Linked DNA regions of Homo sapiens: region 1 is linked to region 2. Evidence: fine-mapped expression QTL. A gene starts in region 2. The other region holds a variant in brackets. All regions are shown on one strand. Distances are between the middles of the regions.

Region 1 (10,044 bases), 49 kb after region 2:
AGGTAATGGAGAGCATTGGTTAACATCATGACACATGAATTTGTTATGTGGCAGATAATGCAAAGAACTTGTAGCATGGATAGTAAGTTGATAATTTGAAAGTTTTTTTTTTTTTTAAAGTTTCAGTATCTTACAGCTACCAATTGTCAGTCTTCTTTTCTATTGTTATAAATAGGGAGTTTGTTCATACTGTAAAATAAAATTACAGTTTTTGTTTGTTATTTATTGCTGTTTAACAAGCTACCCCAAACTTAGCAGCTTAAACAACTGTGTCAATTTGCTCATGATTTTGTGAGTCAGGAATTTGAGAATGATTTTGCTGGTCTTTGCATAACTGGCAGAGTGCAAGTTTGATTAGGTGTTTTCTGTCTTCATGTGCTCTCTCCACATGGCTAGTTTGGGCTTCTTTACAGCATGGTAGTCTCAGCATAGTCAAATTTCTTATATGGAGGGTCGTTTTCTCCAGAGTTAAGTATTCATAAGACAGGAAGTGGAAGGTGCCTATTTCTTAAGGCCTGGGCCCAGAAAATGGCACATATCTCACCCATGCTACTGGTCAAAGATACCACAAAGCTCACCCACATTCAAGGGGAGGAGACATAGACTGCTTCTCTGTAGAAGGCACACCAAATAATTTGTGGCCTTTTAAAATCTGCCAAAGGTTTAAATGGTGTATATAATTAATGGCATTCTTATTTTTAAAATCCTGAGAATATTTCTGGTGGATGTCAATGTTAAAGACTATGGAGGAACACATAGGTCTACATTTAACTGATTCAAATTATAAATGAGTATGAAACAACTAGAGAGAGTAAAACTGACAAAGGATAGAATGCTGGGCACAACTTCATTATAATAAGGACTACTGTAAAGTTTCTATTTATTAATCCAACTCTTGTTCTCCCACCATTAGGTTTCAGTTAATGCCGCATAGCATTAAAAAAAAAAAAAGACGAGGAAAATGAAGCTCAGTAATGTGTATAGATGAATTTGAGTTACAATCTTCTGGCATGCTGCAAATCCCATTTGGATTCCTGGTAACAGACATTTTAGACTACAGTATGAGATAATTTTGTTGAGTGGACTAGGTCTGAGTATCATGTTTGAGAAGGCAGCATTTAAAATGAATTTGACATTTATAAGTATTTTTTTTTTTGGTACTTAAGCTGTGCGTAGTGTTATTTTTGTGTATGAGGAGGTAAATTTTACCTTGGATTGTTAAATATAGTGTCTTATATCATCTGTAATCATAAAGGACAGATTTTCTCAGTAACATTTTGTCAGTGACACAATTTTTCATGACCAGTGAATGCTAGCTGAAGAAACTGAAAATTTTCTGAAATTGTCAGTATAAATCATTTATTTCAGTAGACCTTGCTATGCTTTGCTGTTGGAAGTAAATATAACTTTTCCTAAGATTAGTCAAAATTCACTGAGTTTGTGTCATGCTTTGTTAGATGCTGAGAATAGATCAAAGTTTGATCTCTATATTTTATTTAATTGATATCAAATGAACATAATTAATGATGATGTTGAATTTTTTTTAATACAAGTATGAAAATGCCCTTTCTCTTTGTGATTGTTTGGTACTAGTCATTAACTTTGTTCCCATTTTGTATAAATATTATGTATTAGAAGTTAGAGGCAGTTTTCTGTGAAGAGTATTTCTACTTGATTTTATGTTATTTGATAAATAGATGTTTTGAATAGCAGCATAAAATTAAATGTATAAATTTAATATTATTGCTGTATTGTAATCTTTTTCTGTTTAATTTTTTGGCTTGCATTATTTTAGTCGAGTAAAGTATTTTGTATCTGTTATTTTTATGGTAATATATCTTTTCTTCATATAAAATAAAATTTGAGACCTCTGCATCCAAAATACTAAATATAAAAGTTTATAAATTATATTAAAATATGTCTCAGATTATATAGAGTGATGCGTAGTCATTGTTACCTTCAAATTAGCCACTTGGTGAAATATGTCACTTTTTAGTCGCTAGACTATGTTTGAAAGCTGTAAAATACTGGCGAGCCACAATTTAGGACCACGTAAAATGTGAAAATCGGGTTTATGGAAACAGATTAGAATTTATTTTCATTATGGAATGTTTTGTTTCAAAGTTTGTTGAAAAAATATATTTTGATGTATAATAAAGGTATATAGTATGATGTTTGTGAGATTATTTTTCAATAGTTTAAAAATACTTTTTTATTTTATGTAACAATATAATGGTACATTTCAAGTAAAGAATTTGTTCAAATCTCTATCTCCCTTACAAAGCTAATGATTTTATGTCCCCCTTTAATCTGTTTTATTTGAATATAGTAGGGACTCTTTTTAGAGACTTCTTTTATAGAAAATTGTAGGTAGAAGTGTATACAAGTAAGGTAGTGTATGCTAATGAAAATGGAAAATAGATCACTAAAATTTTGTTTGTGTATCTCATATTATATTGTAAGTGATTTAATTATTTTCTTTGATTTTCATGCAACTCTAAATATATCCCTCACTAATAGTTATGTTTAATTTCTCCCATCCATTTATGTTAATACATACATACATGTGTATTACACATACACACACACACACACACACACACACACACATTTTTTAAAAAAAGTTGTTGTAGGCAGAATAATGTCCTTCAAAGATATTAGGTCTTAGGAACCTGTAAGTGTTACCTTGTGTGGAAAAGGGTTTTTGAAGATATGGTTAAGTTAAGGGTCTTGAGATGGAGAGATTATTCTAGATTATCTGTGCGGGTCCTAAATACTATCACAAGTGTCCTCATAAGAGATAAACAGAGGCATAATCTACAGACATACAGCAGAGAAGACAGTGTGAAGATAGAGTAGAAAGAGATTTGAAGATACTAGCCTTGAACATTAGAGTGATGAGGCTACAAACCAAGGAATACCAGCAGCTATCAGAAGCTGGAACAGGCAGGGCATGGATTCTCCCCTAGAGCCTCCAGAGGGAGCCAGCCTTCCCAACTCTTTGATTTCAGCCCAGTTTGAACTTCTGGCCTCCAGAATTGTGAGAGAATAAATATCTGTTGTTTTCAGCCACCAAGTTTTGGTAATTTGTGACAGCAGCCACAGGAAACTATTATGTGTGAATATACATTTTTGAAATCACTGAAATATTTAATCATAGAATAGGAAGGGATCCCCGTCTTAATTGACCGGCTCCTCTCTTCCTTTGACTTGAACATATTCACATGTGGACTTCTCTACTCTTTTTACTATTATTACATCCTTATACATTGGGTCACAGCTTTAATATCAGCTCCACAGATGAGCCCTCTTTTACTAATTAATTCTTAATTTTTTCCCTATATCAATCCCTTTTTTGTTTTCTGTATCATTCATCATGTACATTCTTGGGGCGAGGAAAATCTTAACCCCCATTGTAAGTCTACAACCTATAAAGAAAGATATATTTGTATGAAACTTAACACATGAATGGAAAGATATACCACACAAACAATTGGTAAAAATATGTACAGTGCAGAGAAAGGACAGAGTTGATATCTGTTCTATATAATAACTTCTTAGATAATGACAAAAAGGAAACAAACAGCACTATATGAAAATGAGCAAAAGATATGAAGAAGCCAGTCCAAATGGCCAACAACATATTAAAAGATGTTCTAACTTACTAGTGTGATATATAACCTTGTATCTATCATACTGCCTCCTTCAGCCCCCACCTTTAATGAAAAGAAAGAGAAAGAGAGAAAAGAACCAGCAATAACATTGTATTGGCAAGAACCTAAGGAAAGAATTAGTTTTTATATTTTGCTGGTAGAAATGTGAGTTACTAGAGCCTTTGTAGACAGTGATCTGATAATATCTATTAAAATTAAAAAAATATATTTATACCAGTTGACCGTGCAGTCTTACTCTTTGAAATCTAGCTCATAGAAACACACTTCCATATATAAGCATTTCTGTATGAGCATTTGTTTCTAGTGGCAAAAACTGGAAATGCAATTTATGTCTATCAGTAGGGGAATTGTGAATGTATTTATTATGTATCTACATAATATATCTACATAATAGAATCTTAGTAGTCATTAAAAAGAATGAATCAGATATGCACCAGTAAACTTGGTGGGATTTGCATGGGGAATTATTACATGAGAACAACTAAGATAATTAAAAATGTGTGTGGCAGCCAGGCACAGTGGCTCATGCCTGTAATCCCAGCACTTTGGGAGGTCAAGATGGGCAGATCACCTGAGGTCAGAAGTTCGAGATCATCCTGGCCAAAATGGTGAAACCCCATCTCTACAAAAGTACAAAGATTAGCTGGGCATGATGGTGGGTATCTGTAATCCCAGCTACTCGGGAAGGCTGGGGTGGGAGAATTGCTTGAACCCAGGAGGCGGAGGTTGCAGTGAGCTGAGATCACACCATTGCACTCCAGCCTGGGTGACAGAGCGAGACTCTGTCTCGGAAAAAAAAAAAAAATATATGTGGCATCTTAAATTAAAAAATGTAGTGATAACACCATTATATATGTAGACATATATATGAGAATACATATTTTTATATGTATGAGAATAGAG[G/A]TATATAGTAGATGGTTAACTTGGACCATTTTAATGGGCAAATGGATGGAGCTGTCATGTTGTGGGAGGGAAGTTGGAGAGGGTATTTGAGGTAGGGAAACATGACTACTAATTTATGCTTTAAAGTTAAAATTAACATTTATGTGTTTATGTATAAAGATTTTTTAAAAATTGCATGTGATGGCATTAATTAGTATAGCTCCTGTGGAAAGTGATGCAGTAAACCCTGTCAAGCAGTGTTCATACTCTTTGAGCTAATCATTCTATATCTGGGAGTTCATATTAAGGTATTAAATTAAAAGAAGAAAAATGTTAATGTGTGAAGTCATCATTGTGCTATTAACTATGTAATATGGAATATTATATGCTAGGAAATATAATAAAGTGTATCCAACATAAACTCATGCTGAAACTTCCTCTTTTTGGACTTTACATCCAGAAAAATTGTTGTCATATTGATGGGATGTAACACACAGGTAAATAATACAATTATGAAGGGTACAATGATAAAGGCTGTTACTTAGAACTATAGACTATATAATAAATGAAAAAGAACTTATAATTGCATGTAGAATTAAAATATATATGTATTTATTTGAGTACTAGAAGGAGATAAGATAAAATGAAAACAGTGTGGGGGGATTATAGTAAATTGTTTTTATCTTGTTTTGACAAATCTGGAGAACAGTGTTGCTCAAATATTAGCAAAATTTAGAAGAAACACTAAAATTTAATATCCAGCTCTTGTAACTGTGGAATATATTTTCTTTATAATAAAACAATTTTGTAATTTTGCATAGGCATTGGCAGAATGTTTAAATTTGGAATCAGATTGGTATTTCTGTCAATACTTACTCTGAAAGCTGCAGTGTCATCATGAGTTATTAAAGATAAATCTTTGGTTTCATGTGCCATATTTCTTACTAGGAGTAAAACTAGGTCTAAGTCCATTTTACGCTTTCTAATAGTTTCCTTTTATCTGTTGATTCCCTCTTATGCATGTTTTCTACCGTTTTCACTGTATTCTTGTATTAATCACAGTTTTTAAAAAGTTTTTGTCTTAATGCTTTAACGAATAGATTATCTCTTGGTCTAGTTTTATTGATTACTTCTTGACTTTTTTTTCCTTTTTGTTTATCTCACAATTTTTGTCACCCACTGTAAAAAACTGAGATAAATTATATTTATTCTCTGAAATGGGAACACCTATTCTTCTGTCAGGTCATTGGTTTGTGTTTCTAAAATATACTAAACTAATGTGTTATGAAGCTAAGGCAGATAGGTGATAAATTTGTAAAGCAATTGAAGGAAAAACTCAGTAAGTCAAAACACATTTTAAAAGAGACACGTTTAAAGTTTTTTTTATATAAATGGAATCGTGCATTATGTGACCTTTTGGGATTGGCTTTTTTTTTTCACTCAGTGTAATACCTTTGAAATCTCTCCAACTTGCATGTATCGGTAGTTCTTTCCTTTTTATAGCTGATAAGTATTACAGTGGTAGAGATGTGGCACAGTTTGTTTAACCATTCACCTATTTTAGGACATTTTGGTTGTTTCCAGTTTTTGGCTATTACAAACAAAGCTATGAACAATCATGTACTGATTTTTGTGTGGACATAAGTTTTCATTTTCCTGGGATAAATACCTAGGAGTACAATTGCTTGCCCTTATAGGAGGTATATATTTAATTCTTAAAGAAACTGAACAACTGTTTTCCCAAGTGATCATACTGTTTTACATTCCCACCAGAAAAAGTGGATCTTTCAAACCACAAATGTTTGAAAGAGCCACTTTCTCCACATCCTTGCCAGCATTTGGTATTGTCATTACTTTTTATTTTTGCTAGTCTGGTAGGTATGTGGTGGTGTCTCATTGTGGCCTTAATTTCCATTTCTCTAAAGATTGGTGATGTTTAACATCTTTTTATTTGCTTAGTTGCTATCCCCTTTGTATATCTTCTTTGGTGAATGTCTCTATCTTTTGTCTATTGAAAAGAACATGCTTTCTTTTCATATGTGCATGGAACCTTCACCAGAATAAACCATATCCTTGGTCATAAAACAAATTTCAGTAAATTGAGAAGCATTTCCTGTTCTTTTTTCCTGAAAAAGTTTGTGTAGAATTTGTGTACTATCTACTGACTCCTGGTATTTGTCTGGTTTCAGAGGGTGGGAGGGTTTTCTGCCTTTCCCCCAAGTGGCAGCTTGCAGTTTTGCTTTGTATGAAGAATAGTTCTAGGATATGAGTAGCTAATCATTTCCTTCATTCCTGTACCATAAGAAAAACTCTCTCAGGTAATCTAATCTGTCCTCATCTTTCTCTAGAGTTCTCGATGCGCATTTGGGTTGTTTGTGGGGTTTACTATTGCAAACAGTGTTACCATGAATATTCTTGTGCAAGACTTTTGGTATCCGTGTGTGAGAGTTTCTCTAGGGCATGTTACTAGAAGAGGAATTTCTCAAAGTATACCTGTGTTCTTGCGGGGCGTGGTGGCTCACACCTGTAATCCCAGCACTTGGGAGGCTGAGGCAGGCAGATCACCTGAGGTCAGGAGTTCAAAATCAGCCTGGCCAACATGGCAAAACCCTGTCTCTACTAAAATTACAAAAATTAGCTGAGTGTGGTGGTGGGCACCTGTAATCCCAGCTACTTGGGAGGTTGAGGCAGGAGAATTGCTGGAATCCAGGAGGCGGAGGTTGCAGTGTGCTGATATAGCGCCATTACACTCCAGCGTGGGCGACAGACCGAGACTCCTTCTCAAAAAAAAAAAAAAAAAAAAACGAAACAAAAAAAACTCATATTAGGACTGATCACCTTGTTATCATATAAAGTTGTTATAATATACTGTCATATTAAATATACTGTCATATTTTTCTTCTAATTTTGTCTTGAGGTCTCTCAAGTGGCTGTAAACTCTAGCCCTGCCCTGAGGGGGTGCCAGGGGATTTGGTCATATGATGCTTATAATGGGCCTTTCACAGGATACTTCTTTATCCCTGTGGACAGCCTAAGTGTTTGACATGTGACCCAGATGTCCTTCTCATTACAAACAAAGAAGCTTGTTTATACTGGCAGGTGCCCTTTTGGCGCTTGCCTGACTTGTGTCCAGTTTATTCTTAACAAGTTAGCTATTCTGTAGGAGAGCCCTGACCAGGAAAGGAGTTAGATTTAGATGTGTTGGTCAGGTGAGACACAGAGGAGGCAGCACAACCAAACATAGGAAATAACAGAAGCAGTATATTACTTACGGATCCCACAGAAAAGAGGGCAGCATGTTTCTCAGGGCCAGATGGGAAAGGGGAAGCCATCTGGGACTTGGAGGCTCCACCAGTGGGTGGGGAGAGAGAGAGAGAGAAAGAGAGGGAGAGAGCAAGGAACCTGTGAGTCAAAGCCATTATTGGGGTCTAGGTTGTTATCAAAGAGTTTCCCTGCAGGGAATTCTAACTGTGGGTGACGTGGTTTGGATCTGTGTTCTCACCCAAATCTCAGGTCAAATTGTAATCCCCAGTGCTGGAGGTAGGGCCTGGTGGGAGGTGCTTGGATCATGGGGACAGTTCCTCACGAATGGTTTAGCACCATCCCCTCTGTGTGGTGCTGTTCTTGTGATAAGGAGTGAAGTTATCCTGAGATCTGGTTTAAAAGTGTGTAGCGCCTGCCCCCCTCTTGCTCCTACTTCTGACATGTAAGAGGTGTCTGCTTCCCCTCTGCCTTCTGTCATGATTGAAAGTTTCCTGAGGCTTCCCCAGAAGGCAAGCAGATGCCAACATTGTTTCCTGTACAATCCTGTACAACCTGCAGAACCGTGGGCCAATTAAACCCCATTTCTTTATAAATTACTCAGGCTCAGGTATTTCTTTAAAGCAATGTGAGAACGGACTAATACAGTGGGTTTACAGCAAACAGACTTCATTTCCTTGGTCACGCTGTGACTGAGAGATGGTCACTGCAGCTTATCTGGGCAGTCCGTGCAGGGTATGGGAGTCAGTAGGGTGAGTCAAGTAGGTTGTATCCAGCTGTCCCATAGGGAAGTGGTTACTGGGAGGCGATCGTATAAGGTAGATATCTGGAACAACAACATAGAGGAACTGGGTGGAGGCAGACAACTGGAAACTGTGTCGAGTGTGACTAAGCCCAGTTTCTGATATGAGAAAGTTAAACATGTTTAAAATGTATGCCAAGGCAACATAAAATTATTAGAATTCACTACATTCACCAAAAATATATAACATCAAACAGGTAGCAAAATTTGATAGATTGGTATACGTAAATTAGTACCTCTCCTATTAAAGTGGGAAATTTTAAATTAACATTTGTGGTTATTGGTAGATAAAAAAGTCAGCAAAGGGTATACAATATATGAAGAATACAGTTCATGGACATATACAGAATTCAATATATAAAGAATGAAAAAGAGATATATAACATAAATCAGAGATTAAAAGGAAAATGAGAATACTGTTAATTATATGTGACCTATGTAAAAATAGACATTTCTAGGAAAATATTACTTGTAAAAACCGAGGGAGAAATTAAAAGTCTGAATCTTCCCACAAAGAAAGCAACAAGCCCAAGTGATTTGCCAATAAATAAGTCTCTACCAAAATTTTGAGGAATAGATTATTCCAATCTGTTGCAATCTTTTAAAATTAATACAAACAGAGGATAATTCCCCAGCAAGTTCTGAAAGCCCAGCATAATCCTGACATCCAAATCAAATGAAGACACCAAAACAGATGACAATTACAGATGTATTTCACTTTTAATATAGAGCTGGTAATCCCAAACAGGACAGTAGCAAATTGAAACCAACATTTAAAGAAGACAAACATCATTGCCAAATTGGATTTTTCCCAGGTATGCAAGGATGATTTACTAATAAATGATCCATAAATGTAAGCAACATTTACATTGATAGATTAAAAGTGAAAAACTGTATAATTAAAATAGATACAGAAAATCATTTGATAATCAGCATAAATTCATGATAAGAATGCTTAGCAAATTAAGAAAAGAGGGAACATCTCTAAACTGTCAAGAAATATTTAAAAAACAACCAGTCAACCAACCATCATCAGCAATCTTCCTAAATGGGGATAGATGAAAAGATTCTCTTAAAGTCAGAAATGATAAAAGCATGCTTATCACATGTTCTGATTATTATTGCTGTATAACAAATCCAAATTTAATGGCACAAAACAGCTGTTTTATTATGCTTATGAATTCTGAGGGTCAGAAACTTGGACAATGTAGAAGAAGGCTTTTTTTTTTTTTTTTTTTTTTTTTTTTTTTTACAGCTCTACTCTTTTCAGTGCCTCAGTTGGGATGATGTGAACGTTGAACACTGGAGGTGACTTGCTGGCTAGGGGCTGGATTCATCTTAAAGTATCTTCATTTATATGTCTGGTGATATGATGCTGGCTGTTGGCTGGGAACTTAATTAGGCAGTCAGTTGGAAAACTTACAT
Region 2 (10,044 bases):
TTACATATGGTGAGCATCATTGATTCATTAATGGAGAGTCAATTTATAACTTCCATTACCTAAATTAACGAACCACAAATTTCACCCATTAAAACCTATTTTTAACATTAATTTTATTGATTAGCAAGGTCTCCAGTAATGGGAAATAATAATAAGCACTAATGGTGGCTACATTTGGAGTGCAGCTCTTCTGATTACCTATCAACCTGGAGTATAAATTCTATATGATGGCAACTGACAATCATTAGAGGGTAGGGTAAATCTGGAAACACACATGTACATTTATATCAAATTATATACACTAAAGTCTTTTAAGGTGAAGTATAATAATAACAAATTTAAACTGACTTAACTAATATTCAGTACCAGTGAGGGTAAGTAGAAAAATCAAGCTCTGTATTAATTTGACCTAAAAGCTGCCATAACAGAAGAAACCAGTAGATTAAAAGGAAGGAGGCAGAAAAGTGTTTATTTAAAACCTTCACAGTTTACTGTTTATGTCCTTCTTCTTATATACAAAGTTATAAATCTTTGCTTATTTGATCAGGGTTCCAGCTTTTTTATTTTCTTGGTTACAAGATGACTGCCCTCAGTAACAAGAACCACATGCTTTCTCATTTATCAAGGGAGAGAAAGGAGCCACAGCCCACAATTTTGGGGCTAAAGTCCTGTAATTGGTGCCAATTTGCTCAACCCTGAACAACATCTTGTGGCCAGGGGAACAACGTAGGTTGGGATTGGGTTATCTTAACTGGACTAACTTTGGAGATAAAGGTGAGGTTAATTTCACCTCAATTTCTTAGGTGTACTATGCACAATGTGGGAAGAGTGGAATAAATGTTGGGATTGCAACTACAGTGTCCATGATAATCACTTTCAAAGCATATATATATGTAACAACTATATTGTTAGTTGCAGTTAAACTAGATCTAAGAATATGTAATTGTGTCTGACATAATTTTTTATGTTTGATTCTTAACAAGTTTTAAGTCCGGCTCCTCACCTGTTCCCTTTTGTATGATATCTGAATCTAGGCAACTTGATGAGAAAGCTTGCCTAGATCCAAATATGGTGCAAAATAGGTATTTCCTATTTTGGTGCTGGTGGAAAATTTGAGCCATACAGTCCCTGCCCTGTGTGGGCTTTTTCACCCAAGCGCCATGTCCTAGCCATGAAAAAAATCCCAATAGCTTTTTCTCCTACTCTCTCAAGTCATTTTAAAACCTGCTTAGGAGGTCTGCTGTACTCTTCCTAGAAAGGCTCATTATGTGAGTAATAAACCTTTTTATACCCTGTTGGTGCATATGTGGTATGCTAAGTCTTGAAATAGGAGCCAAAGTTTGGGTGAGGGTTCATCTCATTTCTGTGGGTGACTGCAACAGCACATAAACTTCAATGGCAGTTTAAATTCCTGCAACCTATCTGCTGTGGTCTGAATGTTTTTGTCCCCCCACAATTCATATGTTAAACTTAATCACCAATGAGATAGCGTTAGGAGGTGGGGCCTTTGGGAGGTGATTAAATCATGAGGACACAAGCCTCATGACTAGGATTACTGCCCTTATAAAAGAGGCTCCAGAGAGCCGCCCTGTCTCTTCCACCACATGAGGACACAGCTAGAAGGCACAATCTATGACCCAGAAAGCAGGGCCCCACTAGACATCCAATCTGCTGGTGTCTTAATCTTGAACTTCTTAGACTCCAGACCTGTGAGAAATAAATTTGCATTCATAAGCTACCCAGTATTTTTCTATAGCAGCCTGAACAAACTAAGATACCATCATTGTAGTGTTTCATTATTCTTATCACCAAGTGCCCAATCTTCCTCTTGATGACTACAGCCAGAAACCTGGAATATATCTTCAATTCTTTCTTCTTCTTCTTACTCCTCCTTTTTTTTTTTTTTTTGAAAGGGTCTTGCTCTGTCATCCAGCTGGAATGCAGTGGCACAATCACAGCTCACTGCAGCCTCCACCTCCCAGGCTCCAGTGATCCTCCTACCTCAGCCTCCCACATTGCTGGGGTTACACGTATAAGCCACCGTGACTGGCTTCTTTCCTCCTTTTTTGTTGGCCATGTGCCTTTAAAATCCTTTCTGCCAATTTCATGGGTACCATCTCGGCTCAGGCAGTCATTAATTCCTCATTTTAGTTATTTTATGTCTTCTATCTGGTTTGTTTGTTTTTCTAGTCTTGGCCCCGTCTCTCCTACCCAATAATCCTTCCTCTATACTGCTGCTGAAGTAATTCTTCTCCAACCTTGCTTAACTAATTCAGCAATTTCCCATTACCTTCAGGATACAGTTCAAACTCCTTAACACAGTTTACAAAACTCTTCATCATCTTACATCTACATTTCCCATTTCTCCTGCTGCATACCTGCATACCACAATGTTTGCTTCTATGGTATGCTTACCTGCAAAATATACTTACCTCCACAGTTCATAGACAAGGAAATATATACAAAGGTATATGTTCCTTTTTCTGGAGCATACTCATGTCTTTCCTTAGCTTGGTCAATTCCAATAGATTCTTCAGGACTAATCCTGAGCTTTGATACATTCTATGAGAAGTACTTCCTGTTTAACCTAGGCTGAGTGAGGTGTTCTTTCTCCACCTTTTAGCAATAACCTTTATTTCAGTGTTTATTATCACTGTAATATCTGATTTGATTGTATATTTTTCTAGATGTGATTCTCTTAAGGGCAGGCACCATGTTTTTCATCTCAGAAGGTCACAAACTATTAGGAAAATGGGCTTGCAGATACATGTACAACAAAGAATAATAATTGAAGATGGCTCATGGAAAAAGTATTCTGAAAAGTAAGAGAGGCACATGTTCTAGAGAGACAAGAAAAGGCACAATAGAGAAATTAGAGCCCTCATACATTGCTGGTGAGAAAGTAAAATGGTACAGCCACTTTGGAAAACAGTGTGGTAGTTCCACAAGGGGTTAAACATAGAGTTACCATATGACCCCGCAATTCCACTCTTAGGTATATATCCAAGAGAAATGAGAACATATGTTGACACGAAAACTTGTACATGAATGTCAACAGGAGCATTATTCATAATATTCAAAAAGCTGAAACAACCCAACCGATGAAGGGACTTTGAAAACATGTTAAGTGAAAGAAGCCAGTCACAAAAGACCACACATTGCATGATTCCATTTATATGAAATGTTCAAGATAGACAAATGCATACAGACGGAAAGTGGATTACTGGTTGCCTAGGGCTGGGGAGAGGAGGGAGAAGTTGGGGCCAAAGGGTATGGGGTTTCTTTTTGGGGCTGTGAAAATACTCTAAAATCGAATGTGGTAAAGCATGCATAACTCTGTGAATATACTAAAATCACTGAATTGTTTATAAAGAAAAAGATTACTGTGGGGAAGGAAGAAAGATTTCATGGAGTTGGTAGGATTTGAATTCACTGATAAATAAGTGATATAAAAAGCAAAGTGATGTGCTATAGTGAATAAACAAGCCCTTCTGTTGGGCAGATCTGGCTTTAAATCCACTTGGTCAATTTACACTTCCTAAATCTGTAACCTCATCTAAAGTGTAAATATATTAATATACCTACTTTGTAAAATTATTGTGGTAAGTTATATATGGGATTTAAAATATTTAATCTAATGCCAGGCACATAGCAAATATTAATAATAAATATTAGTTACTTATTATAAATCTGTTTAGTATGGAATACAGTTTAGTATTGAATATCGGGACAGAGTGAACATGTAAGTACATCAATGGGAAGGAACTCCCAGAAACTAATCTGGTTTCCAGCAGAAAGAGATATGAGAGACAAAATAATATAAAGGTAACCTTACTAAGTTTAAGAAATATTTATGAATACCTTTTTTCTAACTACTAGACACTTTGCTAGACTGCTGGATACACAAAGACAAATGAGAAGTGAGTAGATTGCTGGATATACAAGTGAGAAGTGGTCCTTGACTTGGTAGTCTAGTAGACAGATAAAAAAATATGTGTAAGAAAGCATTACATTTCTTACAATAGAAATGTTTTTTGTATGCATAAAGAAGGGGGTGGGCTGGAAAAAGAATGTAGTCAAGGTGACTTGCTCAATACTGAAACTGCTCATTAACTACTTAGGCCAGCACTTATGGCAGACTTGTCAGGATGCCTTGCTAATATTTTCCACTTCCAGTACAGAACAGAGATTACAGGTTTAAGCCAATTTTGTTCAACAGATGAGAAACCCAGTGTCCAAGGATGAAAGAATACTTGTTATACAAGGAATGTGAATATTCCAGAGATTTATGCTCAAAGTCCCCAGGTTAGTGTCTTTCTTTCTCACTAGACTGTAAGCTTCTTGAAGACAAATATCTTGAGTGTTACCTTGCTCACTCTTGAATTGTCAAAACTTGGCCCAGGACTAGGTATGTGGTATACAATCAATAAAAATTTGTTGAATGAATGTTCTTCAAAATCCTTCCATGGCAAAAACAGAAGAAACATTCACGAGTGGACTGCTAGTTGACTGTTTCTCTCATCGCTATTGACAGTCTGAAATGGACAAAGACATCTATATAATCATTCCTTCCTTTCAAATAAATAATCTGTGAATTACGCTATTCTTTTCCTATTGCTTCAGGACAAGCTATTTGACAGAAAGCTTTTAAGAAAGGCTTTGCAAGAAAACTCTGCAACAGAGATGGCACGTATGAATTGCTGTGATCTGGAGTTGAAGACAAGAACAAAAGTAACTCTAGAGCAGAATTCTTTGACCAAAGTCATCTTACTGGTTGGCGGAGGCTCTCAGTCTACTTGCATCCGGTGCTTGAGAGTTCAGACAGGCAAAGATGAGAGGTAGCATCTAGTCAACATCCATTTCTTGAGCACTTACTACATGTCAGCCACTTTGCTTAGTCCCCGGTTTTACTGTGCTCTGCTAGGAAGTGGTGAAGAGATTCGGCGGGATCTTCTTAGGACCAATCCTACAAAGTTCCAGATGGAACTCATTTTGATTTGGGGGACGGTTTACTTGCAGGGATTAGGTGGAGAAACAGGGCCTGCTACTCAAGAGGAATGAGAAACTGTAACTAACAGGAGGTAGACTGGGAAGGAGCATGGCAAAGTCACCCCTTTTCACAGGGCAACGCTCCAAAGACCACGCTCAAGCTGGGGTGGCAGGGCTCTGAACATGGGGCCCCGACCCGGGCCTCGGCCTGGGGCCACGTGACGCGCGTGTTTACGTTGAGTGACGGGCGCTGTGTTGGGCGGGCCTTGGCGGAAATCAACTTCCGGGGGCAGAGGTGTTCGAAGCCGGGTGGTGCGTGGGCTACCCCAACCTGTGTGGCTGGGCCGCGGTCTCCCCTCAAGGGCCTGGGGCCGTGCCTCGGGTGTACGCGTAGGGGTCTGTGTGCTGGGGGTGGCTCACCGGGCAGCGTGGGTGAGCGGCGCAGCGGCGGCAGCGGAGAGCGAGAGAGGGGAGCAGGTAAGTGAACGCTCGCCTTCCGGGGCCTGGGTCTTGGGGTCGGGGCCGCGCGAGGCGAGCGGAGAGCGCCCCACCGGGGGAGGAGCGCGGACGAGCTTCCGCCGCCTGCAGCCCGCCTGCTGCGGCCTCGCCCTTGGCTGTCGCAGCGACCAGGAGTCAGGGGGCGTGACCAACCTCCTGCGGGAACGGAGCCAGCTCCCGGGGGTGGGAGTGCCCACTCGTTCCTGCGCTCGCCGGTGGGTACCGGTATCTGCACGTCCCAGAATCGAGTGTTTTCGAAAGTCTACGCCCACGAACACGTGATTATTGTGTCACCGAAGCGCCTACCGAACGGAGACCTTGATTCTTGCTTAGATTACACAGAACGCGCCTGGTTTATGTATCCCCTTTTACTTTGCCAAGTACATTGGGGTAAAAGCTCTACAGCGTCTGCCAGCCACATTTCCTTAGAGTTTCTTGGGCCACATGTTGCAATAAAAGTGGCATTTCAGGGTCAAGGCAGGAGCCAGTAACTTTGCCAAGTGGTGAGGTATCCTTCGTCCCCGTTAGCACGCCTCCCTTTCCCAACAATAAAGATATTTTCTCCATCTGCGCGTGTCGCCTACTGCGGAGGAAAGCTTTGGACATGAAACCTATTTTTGGCTTCACTTTAAGGAGTGGAACTCTATTAAAAGCTGCGCTGGTGTTTTTTTGGTAGGATGATGTTGCTGCTGCTACTCTCACTTGCTTCCTTGATGAGAGTTGGGGCAGAGCTCGATTTCCTGGAGGGTAAAGTCTTGGCCACAATTTTAGGTGACTCAGCGGCCCCTTATGAATTCTGACTCTTTCCTTCCCTCCCCTCTCAGCTGTGCGGATACTGATGCCACCTTTCTCTCCAAATATTAATCCGGGTGGGAGTTGGATGATGGTTTTTGGAAGCAGTTTGCATGTTGCGTGGTGGAGTTATTGGAGTGGGCTGACATTTTACTTCACAATTTAAGGCAACCCTTCCCCCCCCCACAATATTTAGTTGGGTGGGGTGACAGGGACTGACAACAAATTCGCTGTTGTGTTCCCTGCTGTCGGAGAGTTCTACACTTAATGATCACCTGATTGCCCTCTGCTACAATTTCTATTGCGTTGAGGGGATTGGTTATACTGTCTGTACCTATTAGGTAAATGTAGTAAGGGTCATGCCAGGCAGAGTGCACCTGCATGGTGTTGGCTAACCAGTAAACTGTGTGGTAGAGAATTGCCCTGGTTACGAAGTTTGGTATCCTCCAGGCTGCCTAGGAGGGTGTTCTGTGGGCTGGGAAATCTTATGAACTGGTTTCCTAGCAACAGTATAAGCCCAATGGAATAAACATAAAGAAAACAAAGTGATGAAAGTTACAACTTACCTCTTAACTTTTATTAAATGGAAAAATGTAGCTTCTTATTGGAGTGATCCACTCAAAACTTCTGAGACATTTTTGTTTATTTTGATCATCTTAGTACTTAATAACACACAAAAGAAACTGCAGAAAATCATTCCAGAGGGACATCACTTTGGTTTTGGGTGGCATTAAAATAGAGAAAAAAGACGTTTAAAAATGAGCTTGTCTGGAGCTTAAATGGACAAACAGGAATTTGGTGTAATAGGCATTTTATGTTGTACTCTTATCTATATGTGTCAGATGTATGCATTACATATGATTGTTATGAATGAAGATAGTAGAAGACGGAGTGGGAGTGGAGTAGAGTGGATGGGTGGATAAGACTGGTTCCATTAAGTAAAATGGAAGGGGAATGTTTTAGATAAGTTGTTCCCAAACTGTAGGTCATAATTACAGCACTCCTTTGTCAACCTGTTCCTTGTGATTTTTAATCTTCCTTGAAAGTTTATCAAATTTTCTTATTTTCTGTCCAAACAATGAGAACTTAATTGAAAAAGGCATCTCTCTTTGGATTAACTCTTGGTGTTTATGTATATCTGTTTCTTATTTACTAACGATAAATTAATATTTTAGATTTCCAGTATTTTAAGGATTTTTGGTCTCCTTACTGTTCCTCCCTGCCCTATTCCCATACCCAGTAAGTTTGGTTTAGCTCATTTAAACTGATGCATATTTTTAAAAAGGGCATATGTTGCTTTTTTTAAAAAAAATCAAGTTTTATTGAGGTATGATTTATAAGTAAAAAAGTAATTTTTATTATATTGCTGTATAAAGTCTGACAAATGCATATAATGGAACCACTGCCACAATCCAGACAAATAATATTCCCATCATTCTAAAGTTTCCTCCCCTCACTCATAGGTCCTAGCAACCACTGATCTGTTCTCTGTCCCTGTCTATAGCTTTGTCTTTTCTGGTATGTTATGTAAATGGAATCATACAGTATGTAGCCTTATGTTTCAGGTTTCTTTCACTTAATGCTTTGATTCATCCATGTTGATGCATGTTTGTTGATGCTTGGTTGTTTTTTACAGCTGAGTAGTATTTCATTGTGTGAATATATCATAGTATGTTTATTCGCCATTTGATGAACAATTTTTGGCATTTAGGAATGAAGGTACTGTAAACATTCATGTGCTGTTCTTTGTACATTAAGGTGCAAGTCTTTGTGTAGACATATGTTTTCATTTCTTTTGGTTACACATCTAGGAATGGAATTCTTGGGCCGTGTGCAAGTGCATGTTTAACCTTAAAAGAAATTACCAGCTGGGCGCAGTGGCTCAGACTTGTAATCCCAGCACTTTGGGAGGCCGAGGTGGGCAGCTCACGAGGTCAGGAGATTGAGACCATCCTGGTCAACATGGTGAAACTCCGTCTCTACTAAAAATACAAAAATTAGCTGGGCGTGGTTGCGGGTGCCTGTAATCCCAGCTACTCAGGAGGCTGAGGCAGGAGAACTGCTTGAACCAGGGAGTCGGAGGTTACAGTGAGCTAAGATCGTGCCACTGCACTCCAGACTGGTGACAGAGTGAAACTCCGTCTCAAAAACAAAAAAAAAAAAAAGAAGGAAATTACCAAACTGTTTTCCAAGGTAGCTGTTTCATTTTGCATTCCCGCAAGTGATGTTTGATGTTCCAGTTGCTCCACATTCTGGTCAGCACTTGTCATTTTATTTTTAATGTTAGCTATTCTAATATGCGTTTAGTGAAAACCCATTTATGTTTTAATTTGAATTTTTCTTCTAACATATTGAGCGTCTTTTCCTGTGCTATTATTTGCCATCTGTGTATCTTCTTTGATTAAGTGTCTGCTGAAATCGTTTGTTCGTTTTTAATAGGGTTGTTTGTTATTGGTTTGCAAGTGTTTTATACAGTCTGGATACAAATTCATTATCGTATATATGTTCACAGCATTTCCTTCGAGTCTGAGTCTGTAGTTTGTCCTTTCATTTTCTTAACAGTATCTTTCAAAGAGCAGAAGTTTTAAATTTTGGTGAAGTCCAGTTTATCAGTTTTTTCTCTTATGATTTGTGCTTTTTTATCATGAGAAATTTTGCCTAATCCAACGTTGCAAAGATTTTTTTTCTTATGTTTTCTTCCAGAACTTTTATAGCTTTAAATTTTAGATTTAGGTCTGTGACCAATTTCGAGTTAATTTTTGCATATAGTGTGAGGTAGGGGTCAAGACTCTCTCTCTCTCTTTCTCTCTCTGTGTGTGTGTGTATGGATGCCCCAGTCTTGCAGCACCATCTCTTGAAAAAGACTATTCTTACTGTGTCCAGAATTGGTTCCTTCCAGTGGGTTCTTGGTCTTGCTGACCTCAAGAATGAAGGCACGGACCCTCGCAGTGAGTGTTACAGTTCTTGAAGATGGTGTGTCCGGAGTTTGTTCCTCCAGAAGTTCAGATGTGTCTGGAGTTTCTTCCTTCTGGTGGGTCCATGGTCTTGCCGACTTCAGGAGCAAAGCCACAGACCTTTGCAGTGAGTGATACAGCTCTTAAAGGTGGCGCATCCGAAATTGTTCATTCCTCCTGGTGGGTTTGTGGCCTTGCTGGCTTCAGGAGTGAAGCTGCATCCGAAATTGTTCATTCCTCCTGGTGGGTTTGTGGCCTTGCTGGCTTCAGGAGTGAAGCTGCAGACCTTTGCGGTGAGTGTTACAGCTCATAGAGGTGGCGTGTCCTGAGTTGTTTGTTCCTCCCAGTGGGTTTGTGGTCTCGCTGGCCTCAGGAGTGAAGCTGTAGACCTTTGTGGTGGGTGTTGCAGCTCATTGTTATAGCTCGTAAAGGTGGCGTGTCCGGAGTTGTTCGTTCTTCCTGGTGGGTTCGTGGTCTCGCTGGCTTCAGGAGTGAAGCTGCATACCTTCACTGTGAGTGTTACAGCTCATAAAGATAGTGCGGACCCAAAGAGTGAGCAGCAGCAAGATTTATTGCGAACAGTGAAAGAACAAAGCTTCCACAGCATGGAAGGGGACCCGAAGGGGTTGCTGCTGCTGGCTCGGGTGGCCTGCTTTTATTCCCTTATTTGGCCCCACTCACATCCTGCAGATTGGTCCATTTACAGAGAGCTGATTGGTCCATTTTACAGAGTGCTGATTGGTCCGTTTTACAGAGTGCTGATTGGTCCGTTTTGCCAGAGTGTTGATTGGTGCATTTACAAACCTTTAGC

What was found.
Region 1: its variant is fine-mapped to the expression of CCDC91 in whole blood (INTERVAL, PIP 0.96).

Annotation. Positions count from the first base shown.
Region 1 is chr12:28,234,657-28,244,700 of GRCh38, forward strand. The region is part of intron 1 of CCDC91 (coiled-coil domain containing 91); the gene reads left to right. Among named protein-coding and RNA genes, the nearest start is that of CCDC91, 49 kb to the left of the region's middle. The variant G/A (reference allele first, on the strand shown) is at 4,578.
Region 2 is chr12:28,185,176-28,195,219 of GRCh38, forward strand. It overlaps CCDC91 (coiled-coil domain containing 91), which reads left to right and starts at 5,281. Exons shown (of 13, transcript NM_018318.5): 1 at 5,281-5,466. LOC729291 (a long non-coding RNA gene) reads right to left here and starts at 5,563. Exons shown (of 1, transcript NR_148936.1): 1 at 450-5,563. RefSeq lists silencers at 5,248-5,297, 5,328-5,757, 6,441-6,735.